Homo sapiens: one gene and its partners. The protein of the gene in region 1 purifies or fractionates together with the protein of each later gene. This does not show direct contact. Each region holds a gene or a part of one and is shown in the gene's direction. Other genes may lie near its edges. The genes, in order: KCNE3, DNAJB4, RIOK3 and SLC20A1.

Region 1 (7,036 bases):
TGAATGAGGGGGTTGCACCAACAACATGATCATGAAGATCTCTTCCAGCTCAGATTCTATTCCTTTGTCCTTCCAACTGGATGCTAAGGGCTACTCCTTCAACTCCTCTCCCACTCCACCAGCTCTCCAATCCACAGGAGTGGTAAGACCACCAAGGGGACAGTGGTAAAACTGTGCACCCCAGGAACTGTCTTTGGATCACCTACCTGCTTTATGTGACTTTTTCTACCTACCTCTCTGTACTTCATTTCCAGACACTGAAGACGCTCATTCTGAAAGAGTAGCTGAAACGGAGTGACGGGAAAGAAAGACCCAAGGGTAGAGTTTCACTTTTCCCCAGAGCAACCTGAATGAAAACCCCACTAAGATCCCCAGTTCATCCCTCAGATCACAGCTTTATTCCCCAACTTCCAAGTTAGGGGTTGGACAAGTGTAAGGCAAGTGCAGTTTGTGAGAACCTGTGAATGTATGGGAAATAGCAGGAACAGAGAGTGAACCTGGCTCATCTGGGGAATCAGGAGTAGGTCTGGAGCAGTGGGGTGCATGGAAGATGAGAGCATAAACGAAGTCTAACTCCTCCTCCCAAGCTTACCAACCTCCATCTCACTGGATCATTGACTAAGATTGGCGAGAATCTGTGGTGCATGAAAAGGCCATAGTGACGAAGTTAGAGGAGATGATGCCCCATGACACTAACAGGCTGTGTCTGGTGTGATGTGAAGCTTAGGTGTGAGGAAACACTGCCATTTGTAGTGGAAAGAGCACCTGAACAGTAGCCCAAACACCTGGGTTCTTGTCTGAGTGCTGCCATTTATGGGCCATGTCATTTTGGACTAGTCACTTCTCCCTTCTGAGCCTCAGTTTCCTCATCTACGAAATGGAGGGGTTGGCCTGGAATCTAGATTCTAGATGATCCTTAAAGTCCCTCTCAGCTTGGCCATCTGCTCACCTTCCTTCCTCACTGGCCTATCTTCTATTTCAAGGCAAGACCTCTCCAGGGCAGGAGCTCCATCTCCCCCATCCAAGGATCTCAGTAATCAGGGACTCTCCTGGACAGGGAAGCCAAGGAGCTCAGAAACAGTGGCAAAACTCCCCTGTTGCTGACTGCCAGTCCCCAGCTTGAGCCCCAGAGGCAGCCCCAGAGCCCCATAGAGAACCAACTTGTGCCTTCATCAGCTTTCTGCCTCTCCTAACGCAGACAGGAGGCCCTGGCACCCCAGCCTTCCCTCCCATACAAACCCAGCACCTAGAGATGTGGAACTATGGCCCCTTTCCTCCTCCTGTCAGAAGCACAAACATCCTAGTCTATTCAGAGAGACCCTGAGGCATGAAAGGTCTCATGAATCTTTATTCCCCTCATGGAACCCTGCCTCAAAGCCCACCCTACCCTCCACACTGTCCCCTTCCCCCACCTTCTGCAGAGTCTATCCCCTCCTCAGGCTAGATCATCCTGGCAGGTGAGCTGTGAAGAGGAAAAATGAGTAAATCTCTCAGTTTGGCTCGACTGGGATATTAGATGTCAGTCAGTCCCAGGGCTCAGAAGCATCTTAACCTGTGAGGAAGAGGTCCACAGCCTTCTCTATCTTGGGATTTGAGAAGCTCTAGAAAGCCCCCAAAATGCCTCTCCCATCAGCCTCTCCAACTTCCCATGGTCTCACAGCATGGTTTCATGATTCGTATCATCACAGGACGTTAGAACCAACTGAGACCCCTTCATTTTACAGATGCGGACAGAAGCTGAGGCCCAGAAAAGGGAAGTCTTATGTCCAAAGTCACACAAGGAGCAGCTGAGCTGGGACAACTCCCCTGGTTTCCATTTCCTTCACCGTAAAGTGAGGGCATATAGCCTAGATGGGCTCTGAAGGCCCTTCCAGCCTTGCTCTACAAAAACAACCACCGTATGTGCAGTGTCTAGTGCCAAGCACTACATGATGTTCTTTAATTTTCACAACAAAGCTATGCTACAGATAGTGTTCATTCTGTGACCGTGTTCATATCCTGTCTATCTGAATAGATTGGGTGGTAACACATCATTTGTTCCTATGTAAAATATCAACCCAGCTGCCAGTTGGCATTCTCCCACTCATGTCAATTCCCTTGGGATTCGAAAAGGACCTTGCTAAGGTAACCCTTAGGAAAGGGAATGTTTTAGGCTGCACCATCAGCTGGTCCCTGAGTGGGAGTCCACATTTTAAACAGGTTTCTCATGAAGTCACCCAGTGAAGACACTGTAAGTCTGGAGGTAGGGGACAGCAATCAGAGGCCCTTTGGTCACTGCACAGTTCCTTTAACTGCAACCCTAGGCTGGCCTGACCCAGCTGCTGCAGGAAGGGGAGGGGCCATGGGAGGGGGTCAGAGCCCACAGCAGGACTGTTGCATAATCCTTGGGGCCTGGCCTTGGGCAATCCACCCTGGTTCTGAAGTTTGTGCTTTGTGTCTGGTTCCTTCCTTTTCTGCCTTCTCTCCTGCTTTCTAGCTCTGGGCTTTCCCAGCTCCGAAGTCAATACTGAGATCCCAGATGTGTCCAGAGACATCCTGAAGAGGCTCGGGGGTGGAGGAGCCTTAGTGTGTCCACAAAGGGACTCCTGAAACTGACTGAGAGCCAGTGGATTTGCCAGCAGTCTGGTGAGTCTTCCAGATTGAGATTTCCCTCCCTCTCCCTGTCAGTTAAAACCCCTTTCCAATGATACCTAAGAAAACTGAATGGTAACTGCCCTGCCCTGGGATGGAGCTTGGGACGACTAGGAGCTTTCACCTTCACTGTATGTGCTGCGTCCATTCTTTTTTTTTTTTTTTAAACCTATGTGTACATATTTGCTTCTTGAAAATAAAAAAAAAGTTTTTAATCCTCTTCTACATAATACAAGTATATGCTCATAGCAAGCCTTGAAGGAGGAGGGAAAGGATGATCATCTTTCTTTGTGGGGTTTTTTGTTTGTTTGTTTGTTTGTTTTTTGAGACAGAGGTCTTGCTTTCCTGCCCAGGCTGGAGTGCAGTGGTGTGATCTCGGCTCACTGCAACTTCCACCTCCTGAGTTCAAGCGGTTCTCCTGCCTCAGCCTCCTGAGCAGCTGGGAATACAGGCGTGTACCCGGCTAATTTTTGTATTTTTAGTAGAGACGGGGTTTCTCCACGTTGGCCAGGCTGGTCTCGAACTCCTGACCTCAGGTGACCCACTGGCCTCAGCCTCCCAAAGTACCGGGATTAAAGGAGTGAGGCACCACAGCTGGCCTATTTTTTAAAATTGTGCTTAAAACACACACACACACACACACACACACACACACAAAACATAAAAATATACCATCTTAGTCATTCTTGAGTGTACACTCAGTAGTGTTAACTAGATTCACCTTGTTGTGCAGCAGATCCCCAGAATCTCCTCATCTTGTAAAATTGAAACTCTATACCTACCATACAACAACTCCATGATAATGTCTTTTGGTAGATGAGGAAACCAAAGCCCACCCAGGGAAAGGAACTTATTTCCTTCAGAGTAGGCTCATCAAGACACTTACACTGTTTGTTTGTTGTCTACCTATGAAATTGCCTGAGGCCCCTTCCTCCTTCAACCCTCACTTAGCCATTTCCTCCTCAGGTCTTACGACTGTCTCTACCCCCACTTCCCTACTTTGTTATCCTCTCTGCCCCAATTCATGACTCAGCATCTTACACTAAACTATTTCAAGACTCTGGTAGCTGGGCTCACTGCCTCAATTCCAGCTCCCTCCAGTCCACATGACAGCCAGAGTATCCTTTCCAGGCACAGATCTGACCATTTTATCTTCTTTTAAGATACCATTCCATGGCTTTTCCCTAGCTACAGAATAAAGTTCCAACTCTACAGCGTGGCACTCAAGGCCCCCCATGATCTGGATCCTCTCTCTCCTGCCCCACATCCTACACTATTCTTCCACACATCTTACACTCCAACCTCTTTATGCTACTTTCCATTCTTCTAAACATTTACACACTTTCTTGTTCTGCCTTTGCTCATGTTTCCTTCATCTTTTCTGCCTCTTAAAAACCCTTCAAGGTCCAACTCAAATGCCTCCATCACTGTGGACACTCTCTGAGCCCTGATCAGTATCCATCACTTATTCCTTTCAGCCTTAGTAGCTCTTTGCTTGTCCCCTGCATTGTATCAGAGCCCCTGGGCGAAGGCACTGGATCTGAGCCACCCCGAACTCCCATCACAGGGTGTGGCCCATATTGGTGATAACTATCTAGATTATTTTTTGAGTTATTTATTTCATCATGCTGCTCCTACTTGCTATTGGCCCACACGAGGGAAGCAGCAGCCACAGAGTTCTTGCCTGACACATGGGGTAGTAGATGAGAACGTGTATCTCCTGGATCTTAACTCAGTGAGCTCTTGTTCTTTTCCCCTCCTCCATCCAGACAAGGCAGCACAAGTACTAGATGTCAGAAGGCCCCAAAGGCCTTGCATGAAATGCTGCCCAGTCCTGGCTGATTGTGTTCATAGAGCCATTGATGAATATTTTTCATAGTCAGAATGATCATCTTTTCCAGGGAAGAGATCTTATGGTTAATAGTCACATATTAGTTTGTTAACAGTTCTACCCATATGATGGAGGACTGAATGCTTGGCCCATAGAGAATTCCTTAAAGTGAACATCTCTACTAGAAACTATTGAGAGAAGGAGAGCACCCAGCCAATCTAGAAAAAGGGAATACCCAGCCAGTCTCAAGGTAGTGCCCTGGGAAAGGAGAACACCCAGTCTCAGGGTAGTCCTCCAGACTGGGGTAAGAGACATAGCCCTGCTGACCAGACGCATGTGGTCTGATGATATCCTTATCAAAAACAAGAGGACAGCCACATATTGCCTTATATGTAAGTGCTGGGGGGAAGGGAAGGCTGTGATGATAAAGGCAGTGTAGTGTGGCTGAGAGGTGGGGAGCACTGAATGGAGGCTTCCTAAAGGAAGTGAGTGTGGGGCCTTGTTTATAGGGAATTACATATGGTTTTTCAGAGACAAGGATGCAAGTCTGTTTTAAGATGTTCTTTCTGGCTGGGCGCCTGTAATCCCAGCACTTTGGGAGGCCGAGGTGGGCGAATCACAAAGTCAGGAGATCGAGACCATCCTGGCTAACATGGTGAAACCCTGTCTCTACTAAAAATACAAAAAAATTAGCCTGGCGTGATGGCGGGCGCCTGTAGTCCCAGCTACTGGGGAGGCTGAGGCAGGAGAATGGCGTGAACCCAGGAGGCGGAACTTGCAGTGAGCCGAGATTGCGCCACTGCACTGCAGCCTGGGCGACAGAGTGAGACTCCGTCTCAAAAAAAAAAAAAAAAAAAATGTTTTCTATATTATAGACTAAGGATCTCTGAGAAGAAGGGAAAGGAACATTTATAATCACTTACTATATGCCAGGTACATAATGACTTTATTTCAGGAGACAAGATAGTTGGCGTGCTTGTGTCTTCTTTTTGTGGGCAGGTAAACCCCAAGCCAGACTGAGAACTCCTTTCACTCTCCCGCCCTCAGGCCCAAGCTGCTGTTCTCTTCTCCAGTGCCTGCAGTGGTTACCAACCTGTTCCCGTTTCCCTGACCACCTCTTTCCAACAGAATTTCTACAAATAGCTAGGAATATCTAGTCTTTGGGACACAGGATGCTTGAGAGGGCAAATGATCCAGCTTCTGGCCTCCAGGCAGGATGAAATTTAAACCATCCCCAGGTGTCTTCCAAAAGGTGTCCGTGGAGTCTTTTTTTTTTTTTCTTTTGAGACAAAGTCACGCTCTGTGGCCCAGGCTGGAGTGCAGTGGCTCTATCTTGGCTCACTGCAACCTCCACCTTCTGAGTCCAAGTGATTCTCCTGCCTCAGCCTCCCAAGTAGCTGGGATTACCAAGCGCTCACCACCACGCCCAGCTAATTTTTGTATTTTTAGTAGAGACGGGTTTCACCACATTTGCCAGGCTGGTCTCCAACTCCTGATCTCAAGTGATCCCACCCGCCTCAGCCTCCCAAAGTGCTGGGATTACAGGCGTGAGCCACTGTGCCCAACCTGTCTGTGCAGTCTAAAGAGAACTGTGCTCAAGGAGAGTTGTGATGAATGTCTTCTAATGGTGCTGCACAGTCCTGCTGAGAGCTAGCATGGAAGTGGAAGCAGCTCTAAGCTAGCCACAAAGAGCAGGGCTTTCTGTCTTGGCTCTACTTCCAATATTCTGTGATCATGGACAAGCCACTTATTCTCTCAAGGCCTCAGTTTCCCTGTGTATAAAATGGCAAGAGTTATATTAAATAATCCTTAAGTTCCTTCTAATCTAAAGTTCAGTGATTTATAGAAACCAAAGAAAGGAGAGATTAATATGGGTTCTGATGGTCAGGGAAGGCTTTGTTGTACAATTATTTATTGAGTACTTACTTATTGAATGCTGTCATAAGTGATTGCATATAGCAGTGAGTAAAACAAATATAGGCCCTGCCCTTATTGTTTAGTGTATGGTCTAATGGAGAAGACAAACATGTAATCAAGCAGCTAGAATAAGCTATTGTATTAGTCCATTTTCATACTGCCATGAAGAAATACCTGAGCCTGGGTAGTTTATAAAGAAAAAGAAGTTTAATGGACTCACAGTTCCACACGGCTGGGTAGGCCTCACAATCACGGCAGAAGGCAAAGGAGGAGCAAAGGCACATCTTAAACAGTGGCAGGCAAGAGAGCAGGTGCAGGGGAACTGCCCTTTCTAAACCATCAGATCTCGTGAGACTTATTCACTATCATGAGAACAGCATGGGAAAAACCCACCCCCATGATTCAGTTACCTCCTACTGGGTCCCTCCCATGACACATGGGGATTATGGGAGCTATGATTCCAGATGAGATTTGGGTGGGGACACAGCCAAACCATATCAGCCATGATGCTAAGATTTTACCTGGGATCTGAAGGGAGGAGGTCATTTGAGCTGCAGGTGACAGAGCCATCCCCTCTCTCTTTTCTTTTGCCACCAGAGCTTCTACCGAGTCTTCCCCCACCTCAATCCCTGTTGCTATGGAGACTACCAATGGAAC
Region 2 (7,000 bases), on another chromosome or scaffold:
AAACTGAAAAGTATGTAAGTTGCATATGCTAAATTTATGTATTTAGGAGTGAAAGAACCAGTAATCCAGAACACAGTATATTTGTGTTCTGAATATTCACAATTTAAAATGCTTTGTTTTAAAAACAGTTGGCTAGCTGGGTGAGGTGGCATATGCCTGTAGTCTCAGCTAATAGGGAGGCTGAGGCTGAAGGATTGCTTGAGCCCAAGAGTTTGAGTCCAGCCTTTGCAACATAGCAAGACCCTACCTCTAGAAAAAGCAAAGGAAAGAAAAAAAATACGGATAACTCAAATTTACTTTTAGGAATCTATAAAAGGGAAACAAAAACATGTCCACACAAAGACATGTACCTGAATGCTTATAGCAGCATTATTTATAATAGCCCCAAACTGGAAACAATCTGAAAGCACCATAAATTGGTGAATTAAACAAAATGTGCTATATACATTCAATGAGGAACTATTTAGCAATAAAAGGACCAATTTGTGAAACATGCTACACCATTGATGAACCTCAGAAACTATGCTAAATTAAAGAAGCCAGATGTAAAAGACTATATATTGTATGATTTTATTTATGTGAAATGTCTGGAAAAGGCCAGTATATAGAAAAAGAAAGCAGATCTTTCTTGCCTAGGACTTGAGGTGGGAGCGGGGATTAGCTACAAATAAGAACTAGAGAATTCTTTGGAATGATGGAAATGTTCTATAACTGGATTGTGATGATGGTTATACAGCTCTATCAATTTACTATAATCAATTGAATTGTATTTGTACAATAGGTTAATTTTATATATGTAATAAATCTTTTTAAAAATAAAATTTCTCTATAGTTGAATCATTTGAAAACAAAAACCACAGAACTACAGAAATTTAAAATTGGATTCTGAACCACTCTCTAAAGTTTTAGGTTTAGTCTTGAATAGTTTAGTGGATGTCAACAAAAATTTGTGTTAAGAGATTTAAAAGAAAAGATTTTCAATAACACATCCTCATTTATTCTAGTTTTCTAATTTTTCTTTTTTTATGCTTTCCTTATTTTGTTATTGCATATGATTTATTCAGTAACTTCAAATATTAAAAGGTAGTGTTTAAATGATAAAACTTGTATTTATTAATCTTTATACTAGTTCTCTTCTGTTCTTTAACTTATATATTTAGCTAGCTGGATTTTTTTTAATTCACTGTGTGTTCTAAAAACATGTAAGTAAATTTGATTTTTGTGAATTAAAACTGTTTAAAAAATCTCAGAATCTCATTATTTGATAACTGAAGTCTTGCTGTAAATCTGGATTTTTACATATTAGATCTCCTTGGATGGAGTAAGAGTTATTAAAGTATTATCATGTTTTTTTCTTTGCAATCTGAATTTTTCTCCAGTGTTTCTTCTTTTGGAAACTTTTAGTCAACCTTAACTAATTAGTGGGAATCATTGTTATAGATAGTATTCCAAACACATATTTGGTTTGGGACTGCAAACTGGTTGACTGGTTAGTTGTAAAATAATAGCAGTCTTGCTAAATCATAGGCAAATGTTGCTTCTCTGGTGCGTTTTTTGATCACACAAAGTGATGACGATGTCTAGAAAACATTTTGAATAGCAGAGGGAATCCAATTGGATATTAAACATTTCCATTAGCGTTCAAAATGTACATGATTAAGAACTGACCATATAGTTAATGTGACATTACTTATAATTTTATGTGCTAGACAATGCAAGTGATACTTGCATAATAATGTATATTAAAGTGGCATGAATTTTGGTAGGATTTTTTTCTTTTTTTTGTTGTTTTTGAGACAGAATCAGTCTCCTGAGTAGCTGGGATTACAGGCGTGCGCCACCACGCCTGGCTAATTTTTGTATTTTTAGTAGAGACGAGGTTTCACCATGTTGGTCAGGCTGATCTCGAACTCCAGACCTCATGCTCCACCCACCTTGGCCTCCCAAAGTTCTGGGATTATAGGTGTGAGCCACTGTGCCCAGCCTAGGATTTTTTTCATTCATTAGAGTAGCTTCGTTCTTTGTCTGAGCTGCATAGTTGACTGTTTAATAGTGTCTAGGAAAACCTCAAAGCTGCATTGGAGTCTTTTTATCAGCTTTGGTAAGTTACTTCAGACTTTGTATGAATCTTCTCAGAGACTTTGTAATTATGACCGAATTGCCCTTTTTGGCAGAGGAGGAAGAGGTTTTCCAGAAAGCCAAACCCATGATGTAATAAATTAAAACATTATTCTTTCTTTTCATGAATTCATTATGGGTGCAAGTATTTAAATTTTGTCTTATAAGAGGCTAGATTGGGCAGGCTGATTTACCCAGTTTACTTAACTCAGTTAAATAATTATACTCCCTTAAGTCTATGGGATGAAGGATAAAATTATTTAAATAATTTAAGCATTGGTTGAGTCACTTTGGTCATGACCTTGAGCTACATATTATTCTATCATTAAAAAAAAAATCTGCCATTACCTTTTTAACATTTGGAGTTATAATTATACTACTAAAATTTATAAAAGGGAAATTTGGATGAGCTGCTTATGAAAAGATCTTGTCCTGCTTATACTTGTCATTCTACAAGGAATTTCCCTAACTGCTATTTGGATATATTGTTCAATACATATTTTGGCAATTTTCAGATTATTAGGTCTCTCTTGATCTCTCCAGATTTCTATTCATGGATGAAGGTAAAAATTTTAGATATCACTTGAGACCCTGTTAGATGAAATAGAGTAGATATATACCTTTTAATGGAAGAAGCCAAATGCAGAATAAGACGTAAGCAAAACTAAGTTTCTTTAAAGTATGCTGTGTGTTAGTGGCATTTTAAATTGTTAAATCTCTCATATATGTATATGTGTGATTATATTTTACATTGTTTTTGCTTCTGCCTTTTTCTCTGTACCGATACTCAAGACACCTTTTTTAGTTTTGATTTAGAAGGACTTTAGGAATTAGTTCATTCCCTTCATTCACTAAGCATGAATACCTACCATTTTCAGCCCTGTATGCATGAGCAGTGCAAAATAAATATATTTCCTGCCTTCAAATCACTCACTGTTTGGAGATATTAGAATCTCCTAGCTTAATCTGTTGGATTTTTCATAGTTTTATGATTTTTAGATTCTTTTCCTGCTTGTTTCTTGATCTGTATTGACCCCTTAAAAGATCACCATACTGTTGTTTTTTGAGTTTTAGTAGAACATTTCTTTCATAGTGGAAAATGTTGTTTCAAATATAATCTTTTGTGGGTTAAATATTACTTAGTGGAACCCTTAAGCAAAGGGTCAAAAAGTCACTATATTGTTGCCTGAGGTGGACTGTTCACAAGAGACAGAAATAACCCATATAGAGGCCTTACGTGTCAAAGTTTACAGCTCTTGATTTCAGTCTTCTTACAAGCATTGAAATTAATGCTAAGATGTGATATGCCTAAAAAATTTGGTATCTAGAGTAGGAATGACAATCGTAGTGTCTAAAAAACCATTTTTCATAGAATGTCCTCATTATTAGAATTTTTTTCACTCTCTGACACAGAGTTCTATTTTAATTCTTTTTTTTTTTTTTTTGAGATGGAGTTTTGCTCCTGTTGCCCAGGCCGGAGTGCAATGGTGCAGTCTTGGCTCACTGTAACCTCTGCCTCCCAGGTTCAAGCGATTCTCCTGCCTCAGCCTCCCAAGTAGCTGGGATTATAGGCATGTGCCACCATGCCCAGCTAATTTTGTATTTATAGTAGAGACGGGGTTTCACCATGTAGACCAGGCTGGTCTCGAACTCCTGATCTCAAGTGATCCACCCGACTCGGCCTCCCAAAGTGCTGGGATTACAGGTGTGAGCCACTGCACCTGGCCCTATTTTAATTCCTAAACAGTAAAAGATGATCTGAAATAAAACTAGTTAGAATGAATATGGTATTTTTATTACATTATATTTTTACATATTTCTATTTTATTTATATATAAACAGTATGAATATGGTATTTTATATTTTGCTATATATTTTATTAATATATTTATATTTTTAAATGTTATATATATTGTTTGATTGTAATAAAAATTAAAGATTTAAGTTCTGCACTTTGTGTTGATTGCTGAAGACCTTCCAACTGACATCTTTTAAAAACTTATATATTTATAAGTAGATACTTATATAATTTATATACTTCAGCATGCCAGATCAGTAGTTTATAAGGAGTTCCCAGTTTTATTTTCTTTTTCTTTTCTTTTCTTTTTTTTTTTTTTTTTTTTTGAGACAGAGTCTCACACTGTTGCCCGGGCTGGTGTGCAGTGGTGCGATCTCAGCTCGCTGCAACTTCTGCCTCCCAGGTTCAAGTGATTCTCCTGCCTCAGCCTCCTGAGTAGCTAGTATTACAGGCACCTGCCACCACACCTGGCTAATTTTTTGTATTTTTAGTGGAGGCGGGGTTTCACTGTGTTGGCCAGGCTGGTCTCAAACTCCTGACCTCATGATCTGCTTGCCTCGGCCTCCCAAAGTGTTGGGATTACAGGCATGAGCCTCTGCGCCCGGCCTTATTTTATTTTTCTTACTTACCCGTGGAACAAAGAATCAGGAATAAATATTAGAGATGCTGATTTGGCCGGAAGCAGTGGCTCACACTTGTAATTTCAGCACTTTGGGAGGCCAAGGCAGGCAGATCACCTGAGGTTGGGAGTTCGAGACCAGCCTGACCAACATGAAGAAACCTCGTCTCTACTAAAAATACAAAATTAGCCGGGCGTGGTGGCACATGCCTGTAATCCCAGCTACTCGGGAGGCTGAGGCAGGAGAATTGTTTGAACCTGGGAGGCGGAGGTTGCGGTGAGCCAAGATTGCGCCATTGCACTCCAGCCTGGGCAAACAAGAGCGAAACTCTGTCTCAAAAACACAAACAAACAAAAATGCTGATTTGGAGGAAGAATTTGAAAACTTAACAATTTAACTTAGGATGTAATCATCAAGAGTTTTATAGCTGTTCTGTATTTAGTAAAGTGGCATTTCTGGCCAATATTAATACATTTTAATGTAAGTTAGCCAAAATTTATTAGCAATACAGTTTTTGAAAGTTTAACTTTTAAGAGTTGCAAGCTTTTTTCTAATCATGCTTATCTCTTCAATTAGGGTTGAAAGGAGGAGCAGGAGGTACTGATGGACAAGGAGGTACCTTCCGGTACACCTTTCATGGCGATCCTCATGCTACATTTGCTGCATTTTTCGGAGGGTCCAACCCCTTTGAAATTTTCTTTGGAAGACGAATGGGTGGTGGTAGAGATTCTGAAGAAATGGAAATAGATGGTGATCCTTTTAGTGCCTTTGGTTTCAGCATGAATGGATATCCAAGAGACAGGAATTCTGTGGGGCCATCCCGCCTCAAACAAGATCCTCCAGTTATTCATGAACTTAGAGTATCACTTGAAGAGATATATAGTGGTTGTACCAAACGGATGAAGATTTCTCGAAAAAGGCTAAACGCTGATGGAAGGAGTTACAGATCTGAGGACAAAATTCTTACCATTGAGATTAAAAAAGGGTGGAAAGAAGGCACCAAAATTACTTTTCCAAGAGAAGGAGATGAAACACCAAATAGTATTCCAGCAGACATTGTTTTTATCATTAAAGACAAAGATCATCCAAAATTTAAAAGGGATGGATCAAATATAATTTATACTGCTAAAATTAGTTTACGAGAGGTAAGTTGGTAGGACCTAAAATCCTAAGACCAAATAATTATGTAGTTGATCATAGGGAGTGTATCTAGATAATAGCTAACATTTATTTAATGCCTATTATACGTTAAAAATAATTACTATAAAAATCCTCTAAGATAGTACTAGTATTATACCTCTTTTATGGATGTGATTATATTTTCTAACTTTAGTTACTTATAATTAAAGTGTCAAGTGTTAACTGGATTATGTACTATGAGGCTGCTTTTACAAATGTGGTTTATGAGATCTGCATTGGTAATCTCAACACATTAGTCTTTGTATATAGGGTTTGTTCTAAATTTGTTAATATGGAGTAATAATTGCATACCAAAAAAGATTAGAAGAAAATAATTTATAATTCACTACAAATTTGTATACATTTATATTAATAAAAAATACATTTATAAGTGCATATAAATATATACATTTATAAATTATAATGCTACTATGTTAATACAATTATTATTTGAGTTCTTATTTGCACTATTTCTTTTTTTTTTTTGAGACAGAGTCTTGCTCTGTCACCCACAGCGCAATCTCGGCTCACTGCAACCTCTGCCTCCGGGTTCAAGTGATTCTCTTGCCTCGGCCTCCTAAGTAGCTGGGATTACAGGCGCCCCCCACCACACCTGGCTAATTTTTGTATTTTTAGTAGACACAGGGTTTTACCATGTTGGCCAGGCTGGTCTTGAATTCCTGACCTCAGGTGATCCACTTGCCTTGGCCTCCCAAAGTGCTAGGATTACAGGCATGAGCCACCACGCCTGGCCTATTTGTACTATTTCTCAAATTGGATTGTAACTTTGCAAATATGGTCATAGCAGTTCCCTGCTTCAAATTCTTAAATTGCTCTATATAACCTCTACCATAAAGTCCAAACTCTTTAGCTTAAAATAAGTCATTTTAAATCTGATGTCTACCCATAAAATGTATATGCACTTCCCCAAGTTTGCTCTATTATTATTATTATTATTTTTTTGAGATGGAGTCTCGCTCTGTCACCCATGCTGGAGTGCAGTGGCACAATCTCAGCTAGTACTGCAGCCTCCACCTCCCAGGTTCAAGTAATTCTCCTGCCTCAGGTTCCTGAGTAGCTGGGATTACAGGTGCCCGCCACCATGCCCAGCTGATTTTCATATTTTTAGTAGCGATAGGTTTTCACCATGTTGGCCAGGCTCGTCTTGAACTCTTGACCTCAAGTAATCCGCCCACCTCGGCCTCCCAAAGTGCTGGGACTATAGGCATGAGCCACCGCACCTGGCCCAGTTTGCTCTATTATTATCTTGTATACTTGAGCTGTA
Region 3 (7,036 bases), on another chromosome or scaffold:
TTCTGTGGGTTTTAGTTATATCGCGTTAATGCTGCAGTTGAACTAGATGAGGTACAGTTTTGATCAAGTGTTTGTAGTTTATCTTTTCATGAATATGTATCTATTCTTTCATTATGGATGAATGAAACATCCAGACTTTCTTTTTTTTTTTTTTTTGGAGATGGAATTTCGCTCTTGTTTCCCAGGCTAGAGTGCAATGGCACAATCTCGGCTCGGCACAACCTCCGTCTCCCGGGTTCAAGTGATTCTCCTGCCTCAGCCTCTCGAGTAGCTGGGATTACAGGCATGTGCTGCCACGTCCGGCTAATTTTGTATTTTTAGTAGAGATGGGGTTTCTCCATGTTGGTCAGGTTGGTCTCGAACTCCTGACCTCAGATGATCCGCCAGCCTCAGCCTCCCAAAGTGCTGGGATTACAGGCATGAGCCACTGCACCTGGCCTCATACTTTCATTCAGAACAAATGAATTCTAGGCCTCAGTTTAGCTTTCTCTCCCAGTTCTCTTAATCCTAGTTGGTACTCCCACAGGTGCATGCCATTGGTCTTAAGGCTAGCTGTGCAGGAGAAGGTAAATGGTTTGATAGAGTTCTTTCCCATTGTTCAATTTTAACATGGAAAAGGCACCTCCTACTCTCATAATTGGCAACCTCTGTTTACTTAAGCACATTACATTAGTTTATATTGCCTTATTTTGAATAGTGTTGCTGAAGGACCATTTATTACTGGAGAAAACATTGATACTTCCAGTGACCTTATGCTGGCTCAGATGCTACAGATGGAATATGACAGAGAATATGATGCACAGCTTAGGCGTGAAGAAAAAAAATTCAATGGAGATAGCAAAGGTATTATAACCTTATTGTGACAACTTCATTGAGTGGTAGAAAACACTCATAATGTGCTCCTAAGTAAATCTTCAACTATTTTTGCTTCTTAAGTTTCCATTTCCTTTGAAAATTATCGAAAAGTGCATCCTTATGAAGACAGCGATAGCTCTGAAGATGAGGTTGACTGGCAGGATACTCGTGATGATCCCTACAGACCAGGTACCAAAGTTTTTACTTTCTGGGGGCAGCAGAATAGAGGTATAGGAAGACTAATCTTTTCAATGAACTCTTTTAGTTTTATATTTTTCTTTGAATCTCATTTGGTAATTTACTCTTAGATTCAAATGTCTTTTCAGACAACGTTGAATGCAGCAATGTAGTCTTTGCTATTTTTATATACCTGGCTTATTTCAATTGCCTTTAGCAAAACCGGTTCCCACTCCTAAAAAGGGCTTTATTGGAAAAGGAAAAGATATCACCACCAAACATGATGAAGTAGTATGTGGGAGAAAGAACACAGCAAGAATGGAAAATGTAAGTTACAGAAAGTATCTATCTCTGAATTTAGAGTTTTGTTTGAATACCTTTCAAAAACAGGATTCTAAATATAATACCTTAGATTTCTAAAAATGTCTTTCTTTCTAAAGATGTTTTTAGATAACAATATGGCAATATCATGGAAACTGAGACATTAATGAAAATATAAAGTACCTCAGAATAAAATTCCATAACAGTGTTGAAAAACTATTTTGACTCACATTGATTCTAAAATTAATAAATAGTTATTATGAAATTAACATTTATTCTTCATCATATCTCTATAAAATAGCATCCCTACCCAAAAAACAGATAACGGTGGCGATTGGGGAATACAAATGGGAGGGAGAAATACTTTTCACCATATACTCTTTTGTGCATTTTGAATTTATTATCTTGTGCCTGAACTACCTGTGTAAAATCAGAAGTAAAGTGTAACTTTAAAAAATAGCATTCTAGGCCGGGCATGGAGGCTCATGCCTGTAATCCCAGTATTTTGGGATGCCGAGGTGGGCAGATCACCTGAGGTCAGGAGTTCAAGACCAGCCTGACCAACATGGAAAAACCCCATCTCTACTAAAAATACAAAATTAGCCAGGCATGGTGGCGCATGCCTGTAATCCCAGTTACTCGGGAGGCTGAGGCAGGAGAATTGCTTGAACCTGGGAGGCAGAGGTTGTAGTGAGCCGAGATCGTGCCACTTCACTCCAGCCTGGGCAACAAGAGTGAAACTCTGCCTCAAAAAAACAAACAAAAAAAAAGCATTCTAAATCCTTCATAAATATTGTGGTTAATATAATATATTAAACATTTAGATTTTAAAGCACAAATGCTTGTTAAGTAAACATATTCAATTATATCATTTCTAGAAATATTCCAGATCTAATTCTAGAAGAGTTCTGTCCAATAGAACTTTCTGTGGTAATGGAAATGTTCTGTATGTGTGCTGTTCAATATGGTAGCCACATTTGCTGTTGAGCACTTGAAATTTGGGTGGTATAATAGAGGAACTGAATTTTTAATTTAATTTTAATTAACTTAAATATCCAAGTGTGGCTAGTGGCTACCTAACTGAATTGCACAGTTCTAGAACATAATTGTCATGGTGTGAACATAGTCTGCTATAACAACCCACTCTCCACAAATAATTACAAAATTGTATTTCTTTGGTAAGATTTGGTGTAGCCTTCACAGTTCAATATTGTGTCCTTTGGCTAAAAGCAAGGTACAATGCACATGCCGAAAGACCTTAGTTTTGGATGTGATGAAATGTTTTCTATGCCTGGAATAAATGCCTTCCTTTGGGTTGTAATTTCTTAAATAGTATTGCTCCTCTTTCTGTGAGTTATTTAATTTTTTTCTCTGTAGTAGCTATGATTTCTGGTTTTCTAGTGTGATCATCTATTGAGTAAGAAAGACTAATCTCATTTGGTTGTTTTTGTTTTTGTTTTTAACTGTCCCTATTTTAAAATATTTAGATGCTAATTCTTCCTTTTGGCAGTTTGCACCTGAGTTTCAGGTAGGAGATGGAATTGGAATGGATTTAAAACTATCAAACCATGTTTTCAATGCTTTAAAACAACATGCCTACTCAGAAGAACGTCGAAGTGCCCGCCTACATGAGAAAAAGGAGCATTCTACAGCAGTAAGGATTTATAGATTTTTTTTTTTCTTTTTTACTAGAAAGATTCATATTAGAAAACTTTGGGTAAAGAAAAAAAAACTTCATGTTTGATATTTTTTCATGAGATTGGCTTTTTAAATCAAAGATGTAAATAAATCCAGCCACTGTGGTGCCCGCCTGTAATCCCACTACTTTGGGATAGCAGATGGAGACAGGAGGATTACTTGAGCCTAGGAGTGCAAGAACAGCCCAGGCAACATAATGATCCCCAGCTCACAAAAAAAATTAGCTGGGCATCATGGCACACACCTGTGGTCCCAGCTACCCGGGGGGCTGAGGTGGGAGGATTGGTTGAGCCCAAGAAGTTGAGGCTGCAGTGAACCATGATTGTGCCACTGTACTGCAGCCTGGGTGACAGATTGAGACCCTGCCTTAAAAAAAAAAAAAAAAAAAAAAATGTAAATAAGCCAGGTGAGGTGGCTCCCAGCACCTTGGGAAGCCAAGGTAGAAGGATCGCTTGAGCCCAGGAGTTCAAGACCAGCCTGGGCAACATAGGGAGACCCTGGGAGACCCTGTCTCAGCAAAAGTTTTAAAAAATTAGCCGGGCATGTTGGTGTGCACCTTTAGTCCCAGCTGCTCAGGAGGCTGAGGTGGGAGGATCACTTGAACCCAGGAATTTGAAGCTGTAGTGAGCCATAATCATGTCACTGCATTCCATCCTGGACAACAGAGTGAGACCCTGTCTCTCTCTCTGTCTCTAAAAAAAAAAAAGATATTAGGCCAGGCGTGGTGGCTCACACCTATAATCCCAGCACTTTGGGAGGCCAAGGCGGGCGGATCATGAGGTCAGGAGTTCGAGACCAGCCTGGCCAACATAGTGAAACCCCATCTCTAGTAAAAATACAAAAATTAGCCAGGTGTGGTGGCGGGCGCCTGTAATCCCAGCTACTCGGGAGGCTGAGGCAGGAGAATCACTTGAACCTGGGAGGTGGAGGTTGCAGTGATCAGAGATGGTGCCATTGTACTCTAGCCTGGGTGACAAGAGCAAGACTCCGTCTCAAAAAAAAAAAGTTATTAGAAGTGGCTCAGAAAATATTTTGTGATTAGCAGTCATTTTCACTTACAGTGCTTTATCTCTTGCAGGAAAAAGCAGTTGATCCTAAGACACGTTTACTTATGTATAAAATGGTCAACTCTGGAATGTTGGAGACAATCACTGGCTGTATTAGTACAGGAAAGGAGTCTGTTGTCTTTCATGCATATGGAGGGAGGTAAATGAGCAAAATATGATACCATGATATGAAAACTTAGTCTCTTCTCCCCAAGATTAATGAATTTACACAGAATCAAAGATAATGCTGCATGGCAAGCAGAGTAATTTTTAAAGTGTTATTGTAGAAAGTCTAGGCAGTATAGGAATGTATAAAAAACACAGTCATCCTAATACCACCACCCAGAGATAATCATTAATAATTTTGGGTAGACTTCTCCAGTTTTTTTCAATGCGTATATTATTATTATTATTATTATTATTTTTTGAGATGGAGTTTCACTCTTGTTCCCCAGGCTGGAGTGCAGTGGCGTGATCTTGGCTCACTGCAATCTCTGCCTCCCGGGTTCAAGCAAGGTCTCCTATCCCAGCCTCCAGAGTAGCTGGGATTACAGGCACATGCCACCACGCCTGGCTAATTTTTGTATTTTTAGTAGAGACAGGGTTTCGCCATGTTGGCTAGGCTGTCCTCAAACTCCTGACCTTAGGTGATCCACTCGCCTTGGCCTCCCAAAGTGCTGGGATTACAGGCGTGAGCCACTGCTTCCGGGCTTCCTCATCTTTATCAGTGTTTAGTATTATCAAATCTAATGCTTTTTGTCAGTGTGAGAGATGAAAAGTAACATCTTGGTATTTTGGTGTGCATTTATTTAATTATGATTAAGTTGTACATTTTTTCCAAGTGCTTTATTGGCCATTTGTATTTCTTTTTCTTGTCTTCTCTCTTGTTTATCCTTTGTCCATTTTCTGTTATACTCAATATACTCCTTTTTTTTTTTTTTTTTTTTTTTTGGGAGATGGAGTTTTGCTCTTGTTGCCCAGGGTGGAGTACAATGGCGCAATCTCAGCTCACTGCAACCTCCATCTCCTGAGTTCAAGCGATTCTCCTGTCTCAGCCTCCCAAGTAGCTGGGATTACAGGCACGCACCACCACGCCTGGCTAATTTGTGTGTTTTTAGTAGAGATGGGCTTTCACCATGTTAGCCAGGCTGGTCTCAAACTCCTGACATCAGGTGATCCACCCATCTTGGCCTCCCAAAGTGCCAAGATTACAGGCGTGAGCCACTGCGCCTGGCCTGGTATACTTAATATACTCTAATATAATAAATGTTCAGTCTTTCTGGTGGAATTGGTATCATAATCTGTACTTTGACATTTCTAAGTTAGCAAAACTAGAGAACATTCAGTTTTCTACAGCTAAAAGTTAATGCTTTTAAAAGTTTGTTAGTTTTCTGTGGTACATAATAAATTGCCACAGACTTAGCAGCCAAAACAGCATCCATTTATTATCTCATAGTTTCTGTTGACAGAATCCAGGCATGGCTTAACTAGGTTCTCTGTTCAGGGTTTCACAAGCCTGCAGTCTAGGTGTTGGCCAGGCTGTGTTCCTTTCTGGAGCTTGGCGTCCTCTTCCCTTGGCCACCTTTCAGTTGCAGCTATACGACTGAGGTCCCACTTTCTTGTTGGCTGTCAGCAGTGGGCTGCTCTCAACTCCTTGAGGCCCCTGCAGTTCCTTGCCATGGGGCCGTCTCACAGGCCTCTTCACACACTAGCTCTCACACTTTCAAAGCCAGCAGGAGAATCTCTCCAGTCTGCTAAGACTGAGACTTAGTGTTATGTTATCATGGGAATGACTAGACCATCACCTTTGCCACATAACCTAACCAGGGAGTGGCTATCCCACACATGCTCAAGGGAAGGAGGTATTATACAGGGGTGTGCACACCAAGGGGGCTGGGAGTTTTGCTTTCCACAAAGCTCTGGTTCCTTTCTTTCTTCCTCTCTCTCTCTCTCTCTCTCTCTCTCTCTCTCCCCCTCTCTCCCCCTCTCTCCCTCCCTCCCTCCCTCCCTCCCCTCCCTCCCCTCTCTCCTCTCTCCCCTCTCTCCTCTCTCTCTCTCTCTCTCCCTCTCCTCTCTCCTCTCTCTCTCTCTCTTTTTCTTTCTTTCTTTCTTTTTCTTTCCTTCTTTCTTTTTTTTTTTGAGATGGAGTCTTGCTCTGTCACCCAGGCTGGAGTGCAATGGCGCAATCTTGGCTCACTGCATCCTCTACCTCCCAAGTTCAAGTGATTCTCCTGCCTCAGCCTCCCCGGTAGCGGGGATTACAGGTACACACTACCATGCCCGGCTAATTTTTGTATTTTTAGTAGAGACGGGGTTTCACCATTTTGGCCAGGCTGGTCTCAAATTCCTGACCTTGTGATCCAACTGCCTCAGCCTCCCAAAGTGCTGGGATTACAGGCGTGGGCCACTGTGCCTGGGTCAAAGCTCTGGTTTCTGTCACTCTCAGGTTGGTCAGGCAATCAACAATTATTCAAACAGTAATTTGTGCTAGATTACTCAGGGAATAAAATATAAGACATATTTTTTACTCTCAAAGAGCTTAAGCTTTAGCTAAAAGGAGAACATTACAGTAAGAACCATTATGGTCAATGAAAGATAATTACATAATAGAGTACCCAGTTATGCAAACGAGACCTTATATGGGATAGGAATAGCGAATAGAACAAGATCATTGCCAGGCACATTCAGGGAAGATATCATAATGAAGTTGGATCTCAATCTGGATTTTAAAAATAGGTTAAAAAAAGAAATCCGTTGGAGGACCGATGGGGGCGGATCACGAGGTCAGGAGATCGAGACGATCCTGGTTAACACGGTGAAACTCCGTCTCTACTAAAAAATACAAAAAAGTTAGCCGGGCATGGTGGCGGGCATCTGTACTCCCAGCTACTTGGGAGGCTGAGGCAGGAGAATGGCGTGAACCTGGGAGCGGAGCTTGC
Region 4 (7,036 bases), on another chromosome or scaffold:
GAACTCGTGACCTCAGGTGCTCCACCTGTCTCAGCCTCCCAAAGTGCTGGGATTACAGGTGTGAGCCACTGTGCCTGGCCAGTGCTTTACTTCTGTCTTTAGTACAGGCTAATGGTTTGGAGCCTACTGGCGTGCATATGACAGTCAGATAATGACTAATATTACTCATTCTTAAACCATGTGAACAGTGTTGCTAGGCAAGTCTTTTTTTAAGGTAAGACTTGTAAGTGAAATTACCACTAAACTTTGTGTGTGAGAAAGACAAAACTTTTTTTTTTTTTTTTTTTTTTTTTGAGACAAAGTCTGACTTTGTCACCCAGGCTGGAGTGCAGTGGCGCAATCTCAGCTCACTGCAACCTCCGCCCTGCCAGGTTCAAGTGATTCTCCCACCTCAGCCTCCCGAGTAGCTGGGACTACAGGCGCCCACCACCATGCCCGGCTAATTTTTTTTTGTATTTTTAGTAGAGATGGGGTTTTGCCATGTTGGGCAGGCTGGTCTCGAACTCCTGACCTCAAGTGATCTGCCTGCCACGGCCTCCCAAAGTGCTGGGATTACAGGCATGAGCCACCGTGCCTGGCTGAAAGACAAAGCTTTTACAACTATTCTTAAATTATCAACTTTTGATAGATAATATCCTTGTTTTCTGTATCTTGCTTTGATACTGCTTTCAAGGAGATAATCTCATTAAAGCATTTTACTAAAGGCCAGTATAGTGAATGTAATCACTTTTACACAGAATTGTGTCAGCATGACAAATGTGACTACTGAGACATCATTCTGTTAACATTAAAATAAGTTTGTAGGTGGTAATGGAATATGTGGCAGTTACGATCATGAGCTAGGAGAGTGGAACACTTGCTGTCTTTTTCATAGCTAGTCATAGGTCCTTAGCGTGTAGTGATCTTTATTATCTTCCAAGGTGAAGAAAGGAAAAGGCTCGTATGTTGAGAAGCATAGGAACTTGAGTCCCGCAGGTGTTCAAGTGGGCTAGGCTGGTGTGGGTTTTCAGATGATCATTGAGTTTTTCTCCCAAATTTGTATAGGCACTAGCACAGTAATCCTGTGCACTTAAATCTGGCAGCAGCTGTCAGGGGTGATGGGCTGGTATGGGGAACCCCTCAGTCCCCAGAGGAGGGTTTACACAATATTGCAGGGGGCTGTTGCCCTGGGGTTTTCAAGATGCACCATTTTATCTCCTAGTGCTGGGCTTTGACAAACTTCCTCTGTGGGGTACCATCCTCATCTCGGTGGGATGTGCAGTTTTCTGTGCCCTTATCGTCTGGTTCTTTGTATGTCCCAGGATGAAGAGAAAAATTGAACGTAAGTAATAACTAAACAGCAGAAAAGTTTAACTACTAATGTTGTGTTTATTTTTTATTTGGCCACCTGTAAAAATCTATTAGAAGAGATTGGCAAAATAAGAGATTTTAAAGGGAAATTTGAGGATATGGGTTTGTTGTCCAAACTGTTTTTAGAAATGGACTTACATGACCTAAGACCTGTTCTTAAAAATGGACTTACATGACCTAAGACCTAGTGATAAAGAGTATTCAACCTATGCTGTAGAGACAATCTGGGGCATTGAATTTTTTTATGTTCCTTGATCAGTTGCCAGTGACATGATAGATAAATAGAGAAATCATAGCCTACATTTACTGAGAAGTAGAAGGATACCTTAATGAAAAATAAGGGGTAGATACAAGATATTTTCGTAGAGGAAATATTTACCCCAACTGCTTCTGTGTATAACTTCAGATTCAGACAAGCAAAGCTAAGTCTAATGTGTACATGTTGTATATAGGCTAGAATACATGTAGACATTGTATTGCAGTATACAATGCAAATACATATACAAACACACATTGTGTGTCTGCTAGAATTGTAGCACAGATTCTAGAAGTAAACATTTTCAAGTGTCAAGGAATCATTTAGGCCATTACCACACACTCATGTAATTAAATACTGAGTAAATTTTGGTTAGTATCGGACTTTTTTTTCCTTAAAATAATCATTTTCTGCCCTTTTCATCGATGTGAAGGCTGGGTTAGCAAGTTGAAGTTTATCGTTTCGAAGCTGAGGGATGCATAGACTGCAGTGGTGTTAGGAAGAACGCTGCGTCACCGCAGCTGAACCGAAGAGCCTCCGAGAGGTTCTGTGCTAGTCTGGCTGTGCCGAGTGCACGGTGGGAACCAGGCTTTCAGGACTCTCTGGCCTCATTTTCCCTCTCTGGGAGGAGTTGAGACAAGTCTTGCTTTATGTTAGTCAGTCTGTAGTTTGACTGAGGTGCCTGGATGGATAGGTCAGCATACTGAGCACTGGCATGAGAGAGGCAGAAGATACTCTGGTCTGCCTGTGGGATTTACAGCCATGATGCACATCTCTTTGTTTTATAGAGGTGGAAATTAAAGTTGTCGTCTTTAGTTCCCTGCATTGAGCTGTGCCACTTTGCTTGAATTGGTGGACTGAAATTTGAGAGAATCCTCTTTTGAAAAGAATAGAATTGGGTACAGTTCAGATTTTTAGTTTCAGCTTATCAGCCCCATGGTTGAGCTACTTTCCCCTACAGAATGAGTCAGCAGGGAGCTAAGAAGGGTTCTTATATCTGTAAAGGGTTGTAAAAATAAAAACAAAACAACAATGTGCTACAGAAGCCCGTAAAACCTAAAATATTTACAGAAAAATTTTGGGACCCCTGACATAGGGTGTTCTGCATTGCTGGTTGTTCCCAAGTGAGAGTTGCTGGCAAATGATAAAGCAGGCAGGAAAAATGTTCCTGAATGTTAATTGAAGTTCACATACATTCTTGTTTTGAGATGAGTTTTTTGGGGGTGGAGGAAAGGAGACGTGGAACAAAGTAGTATGGCCACAACCAAACCAAAAAAGACCCCCCTTTTTTTTCCTAGGAGAAATAAAGTGTAGTCCTTCTGAAAGCCCCTTAATGGAAAAAAAGAATAGCTTGAAAGAAGACCATGAAGAAACAAAGTTGTCTGTTGGTGATATTGAAAACAAGCATCCTGTTTCTGAGGTAGGGCCTGCCACTGTGCCCCTCCAGGCTGTGGTGGAGGAGAGAACAGTCTCATTCAAACTTGGAGATTTGGAGGAAGCTCCAGAGAGAGAGAGGCTTCCCAGCGTGGACTTGAAAGAGGAAACCAGCATAGATAGCACCGTGAATGGTGAGTTGGAATTCCTGGTTTCACTTTTGTTACCTGCAGTGGTGAGGAGGCTTATTGTTTTGGATTTGATGCTTTTTGTATTGAATGTCACCTTGGTGATCTTGACTAGGTGCAGTGCAGTTGCCTAATGGGAACCTTGTCCAGTTCAGTCAAGCCGTCAGCAACCAAATAAACTCCAGTGGCCACTACCAGTATCACACCGTGCATAAGGATTCCGGCCTGTACAAAGAGCTACTCCATAAATTACATCTTGCCAAGGTGGGAGATTGCATGGGAGACTCCGGTGACAAACCCTTAAGGCGCAATAATAGCTATACTTCCTATACCATGGCAATATGTGGCATGCCTCTGGATTCATTCCGTGCCAAAGAAGGTGAACAGAAGGGCGAAGAAATGGAGAAGCTGACATGGCCTAATGCAGACTCCAAGAAGCGAATTCGAATGGACAGTTACACCAGTTACTGCAATGCTGTGTCTGACCTTCACTCAGCATCTGAGATAGACATGAGTGTCAAGGCAGAGATGGGTCTAGGTGACAGAAAAGGAAGTAATGGCTCTCTAGAAGAATGGTATGACCAGGATAAGCCTGAAGTCTCTCTCCTCTTCCAGTTCCTGCAGATCCTTACAGCCTGCTTTGGGTCATTCGCCCATGGTGGCAATGACGTAAGGTCAGTTGACATTGATCTTAGTGTTGCTAACCCTATTTTTAAACCATTTATCCTTGTCACAGGCCTGTGCTTGTGGTAGTGGTACTCCTAGCATTTACAGGACCCCAAATAATACAAATAGGATGAGGTAATAGCAGTTATTGACATAATAAGACAGTACAGTTTTATTCTTCAGAGGAATTACAAAGAATGTTTATTTTTGTAGATGATAAATATAAACAGATACTCTTCACAGAGAAGGCTTTTGTCCATCAAGATGAGATTCAGTTCTTTGGTAGTGAATTGTGGGATGTAAGATGTAAGATGAAAAACTTAAAAGTTTTTCATATAGAATGATTTTGTAGTTTGGTTTGTAAACTGTTTATTGGAACCTGAGAGTTGCTTTAAGCTGCCTATAGGAGGAAAGAGGCCACCATTTGCCTGGCATTCCCTCCATCAGAGCTGTGTTCATTTTTCTGTTGTGTATGTTGGGGTTCCATTTATGTCTTTAGAAAGAAAGGCCCTTTTGCCAGATGAGCTTGAAAGCTGTACTTTAGACAACCTGGTAGATCATTCAGCAGATTGGGTCTTGCCAAGATCTAGTTCTGCCTGAAAAGTCACTTCTGCCCTCTTTGTTTCTTCCAGCAATGCCATTGGGCCTCTGGTTGCTTTATATTTGGTTTATGACACAGGAGATGTTTCTTCAAAAGTGGCAACACCAATATGGCTTCTACTCTATGGTGGTGTTGGTATCTGTGTTGGTCTGTGGGTTTGGGGAAGAAGAGTTATCCAGACCATGGGGAAGGATCTGACACCGATCACACCCTCTAGGTAAGTAGGTGGAGCAGGTTCTACAAATGTCAGTACTCATTTTTTTCAGAGATATAACACTGTCGAGTGCTAACACAAATCTCTAAAGTAACCAAGTTTGTATAAGTTCATGATGTTCTTATTGTCATTGTTCTTTTTAGATTTTACTTGTCTGGCCCTTAAACATTTTGGTCAGACATTTTACCCATTTAGCTCTGGTGGTCTCTGAAGAAAATGACTTTTCTGAGAAAGCTGTGTATGCTAAGAGCGGATAGTTATGTATACTTGCCTTTTATTTGTCTTGGGAGCTAAGACTCAATGTTTACCAAACTCTTCAAAATAAAAGTGCAAATTTTATTTAATAGTGGGATTCCAGAAAAACGTAAAACTGGAAGCCTTTGAATAAGGAAACTGGGCATCTGTGGCCTGATTTAAATAAAGTAGATCTTAGGGGTTATAGCAAATAAAGATGTCAGTGGAGGTTTTGTGACTGAGTAGAACAAAGCAGGACTGTGTTAACTTGAGGTGTAGTGTTAGCTTCTCAAAAAAGTCAAACTCACTTCCTGACAAGAATCCTTTTGTGTCTGTAGTGGCTTCAGTATTGAACTGGCATCTGCCCTCACTGTGGTGATTGCATCAAATATTGGCCTTCCCATCAGTACAACACATTGTAAAGTAAGTGTAATGCCAATGTGTGTCTTTCAAATGGTTCTTCTAATATGTAGGGTTTTTAGTTTTACTTCTCTGATACTTTGATTTAGAAAGTTTTGTGCAGTTGGAGTCTTGAAGAGTTCATAAGTTATTTCTTGTGTTTATTCTTATTTAAGCAATTAAATAGATATTCTCCCCAAATAATAGAAACATTGTTTTATATACAGCTTACTGTAGTTTCTGGCTACTAACCTCTTCCTTTGTTACTTTATCCTCCCTCATTGTAGTCTCTTTATAATAATTTTTTTTTTAATCTCAAGAGTCATTTCTACTTGGCACCATTATGTTTTATTTATTTATGTATGAGTTGGAGTCTTGCTGTGTCACCTGGGCTGGAGTTCAGTGGCACAATCTCGGCTCATTGCAACCTCCGCCTCCTGGGCTCAAGTGATTCTTGTGCTTCAGCCTCTCAAGTAGCTGGGATTATAGGCACCCGCCACCATGCCTGGCTAATTTTTGTATTTTTAGTAGACACAGGATTTCACCATGTTGGCCAAGCTGGTCATGAACTCCTAACCTCAGGTGATCCACCTGGCTCGGCCTCCCAAAGTGCTAGGATTACATGCGTGAGCCACCGCGCCCGGCCGACAGCATTATGTTCTTTGCCTTTGGGGAAGCCATTCAGAGCAGGGTAGGTGTATGCTTAGAAACTGGCAGGTGCTTTAATTCTGGCCAGGTGGGTTTCTGCTGCCATTTGTGGTGGCTGAAGGCCTGGTTCTAACAAGTCTGTGAGGCTTGCCAAAATGTTGGCAAAGCAGTTTATTTACAGAAGGCATATTTCAGGGCCTCTCAGGATTGAAATACTGAGAAACAAAACAAATCTTAAGGTTGTTTGATGACAATCTAATAATTATAGGAGAAGGAAGAAACTGGTTTCCTTAAGAGCATTTAAGCTGGTCCATCATGGATCCTGCTGAGTCATCTGTTTGCTACCCGGATGTGTCTCCAGACAATTGTTTATTAGGTTTAATATCAGCCACTCTGTAAATAATCTTAGGAAGACTTACAATGCAATTTGTTATTAAAAGCAGTGTATAGGCCAGGTGCAGTGGCTCATGCCTGTAATCCCAGCACTTTGGGAGGCCAAGGCAGGTGGATCACAAGGTCAGGAGTTTGAGACCAGCCTGGCCAACATAGTGAAACCCCATCTCTACTAAAAATACAAAAAATTAGCTAGGCGTGGTGGTGGGTGCCTGTAATCCCAGCACTTGGGAGGCTGAGGCAGGAGAATCACATGAAACCAGGAGGTGGAGGTTGCAGTGAGCCAAGATTGCGCCACTGTACTCCAGCCTGGGCGACAGTGCGAGACTCCGTCTCAAAAAATAAATAAATAAAAGCAGTATATATTCATTAAATTTTAGCAGTAGCTGAGAAGGGGAAAAGAAATAGTTCTTGTGTCCTTTTACTACCGTTAGTATAGATTATGATTGGATTTTCAAATTGCCTTCATTTTCCCAGCTTAACCTGTTGTAAACCAGCTTTCTTGGACTTTGTCTTGTCCAGGGGTCTGGGGCTCCTTGTCCAAACAGTCTCAGGTGTCTGTTTGCCAGAATACCACTGGCACTTCAATAACCTGTTTCCTTGGTCTGCTTCTCTTCTAGGTGGGCTCTGTTGTGTCTGTTGGCTGGCTCCGGTCCAAGAAGGCTGTTGACTGGCGTCTCTTTCGTAACATTTTTATGGCCTGGTTTGTCACA

The links.
Region 2: the proteins of KCNE3 (region 1) and DNAJB4 purify together in Homo sapiens (co-immunoprecipitation; 2 studies listed by BioGRID and IntAct, with this or other methods). This does not show direct contact.
Region 3: the proteins of KCNE3 (region 1) and RIOK3 purify together in Homo sapiens (co-immunoprecipitation; 2 studies listed by BioGRID and IntAct, with this or other methods). This does not show direct contact.
Region 4: the proteins of KCNE3 (region 1) and SLC20A1 purify together in Homo sapiens (co-immunoprecipitation; 2 studies listed by BioGRID and IntAct, with this or other methods). This does not show direct contact.

Annotation. Positions count from the first base shown.
Region 1 is NC_000011.10:74,457,544-74,464,579, reverse strand, and holds part of KCNE3 (potassium voltage-gated channel subfamily E member 3), read left to right. Parts: exon of another isoform or gene 1-318; intron 319-1,724; exon of another isoform or gene 1,725-1,898; intron 1,899-2,447; exon of another isoform or gene 2,448-2,476; 5' UTR 2,477-2,625; intron 2,626-6,976; coding exon of another isoform or gene 6,977-7,016; coding exon 7,017-7,036. UniProt on the Homo sapiens protein: Ancillary protein that functions as a regulatory subunit of the voltage-gated potassium (Kv) channel complex composed of pore-forming and potassium-conducting alpha subunits and of regulatory beta subunits.
Region 2 is NC_000001.11:78,007,939-78,014,938, forward strand, and holds part of DNAJB4 (dnaJ homolog subfamily B member 4), read left to right. Parts: intron 1-5,112; coding exon 5,113-5,681; intron 5,682-7,000. UniProt on the Homo sapiens protein: Probable chaperone. Stimulates ATP hydrolysis and the folding of unfolded proteins mediated by HSPA1A/B (in vitro).
Region 3 is NC_000018.10:23,463,270-23,470,305, forward strand, and holds part of RIOK3 (serine/threonine-protein kinase RIO3), read left to right. Parts: intron 1-697; coding exon 698-843; intron 844-936; coding exon 937-1,044; intron 1,045-1,249; coding exon 1,250-1,359; intron 1,360-2,863; coding exon 2,864-3,007; intron 3,008-4,129; coding exon 4,130-4,257; intron 4,258-7,036.
Region 4 is NC_000002.12:112,655,921-112,662,956, forward strand, and holds part of SLC20A1 (sodium-dependent phosphate transporter 1), read left to right. Parts: intron 1-1,201; coding exon 1,202-1,321; intron 1,322-2,904; coding exon 2,905-3,174; intron 3,175-3,283; coding exon 3,284-3,842; intron 3,843-4,466; coding exon 4,467-4,652; intron 4,653-5,221; coding exon 5,222-5,306; intron 5,307-6,943; coding exon 6,944-7,036. UniProt on the Homo sapiens protein: Sodium-phosphate symporter which preferentially transports the monovalent form of phosphate with a stoichiometry of two sodium ions per phosphate ion. May play a role in extracellular matrix and cartilage calcification as well as in vascular calcification.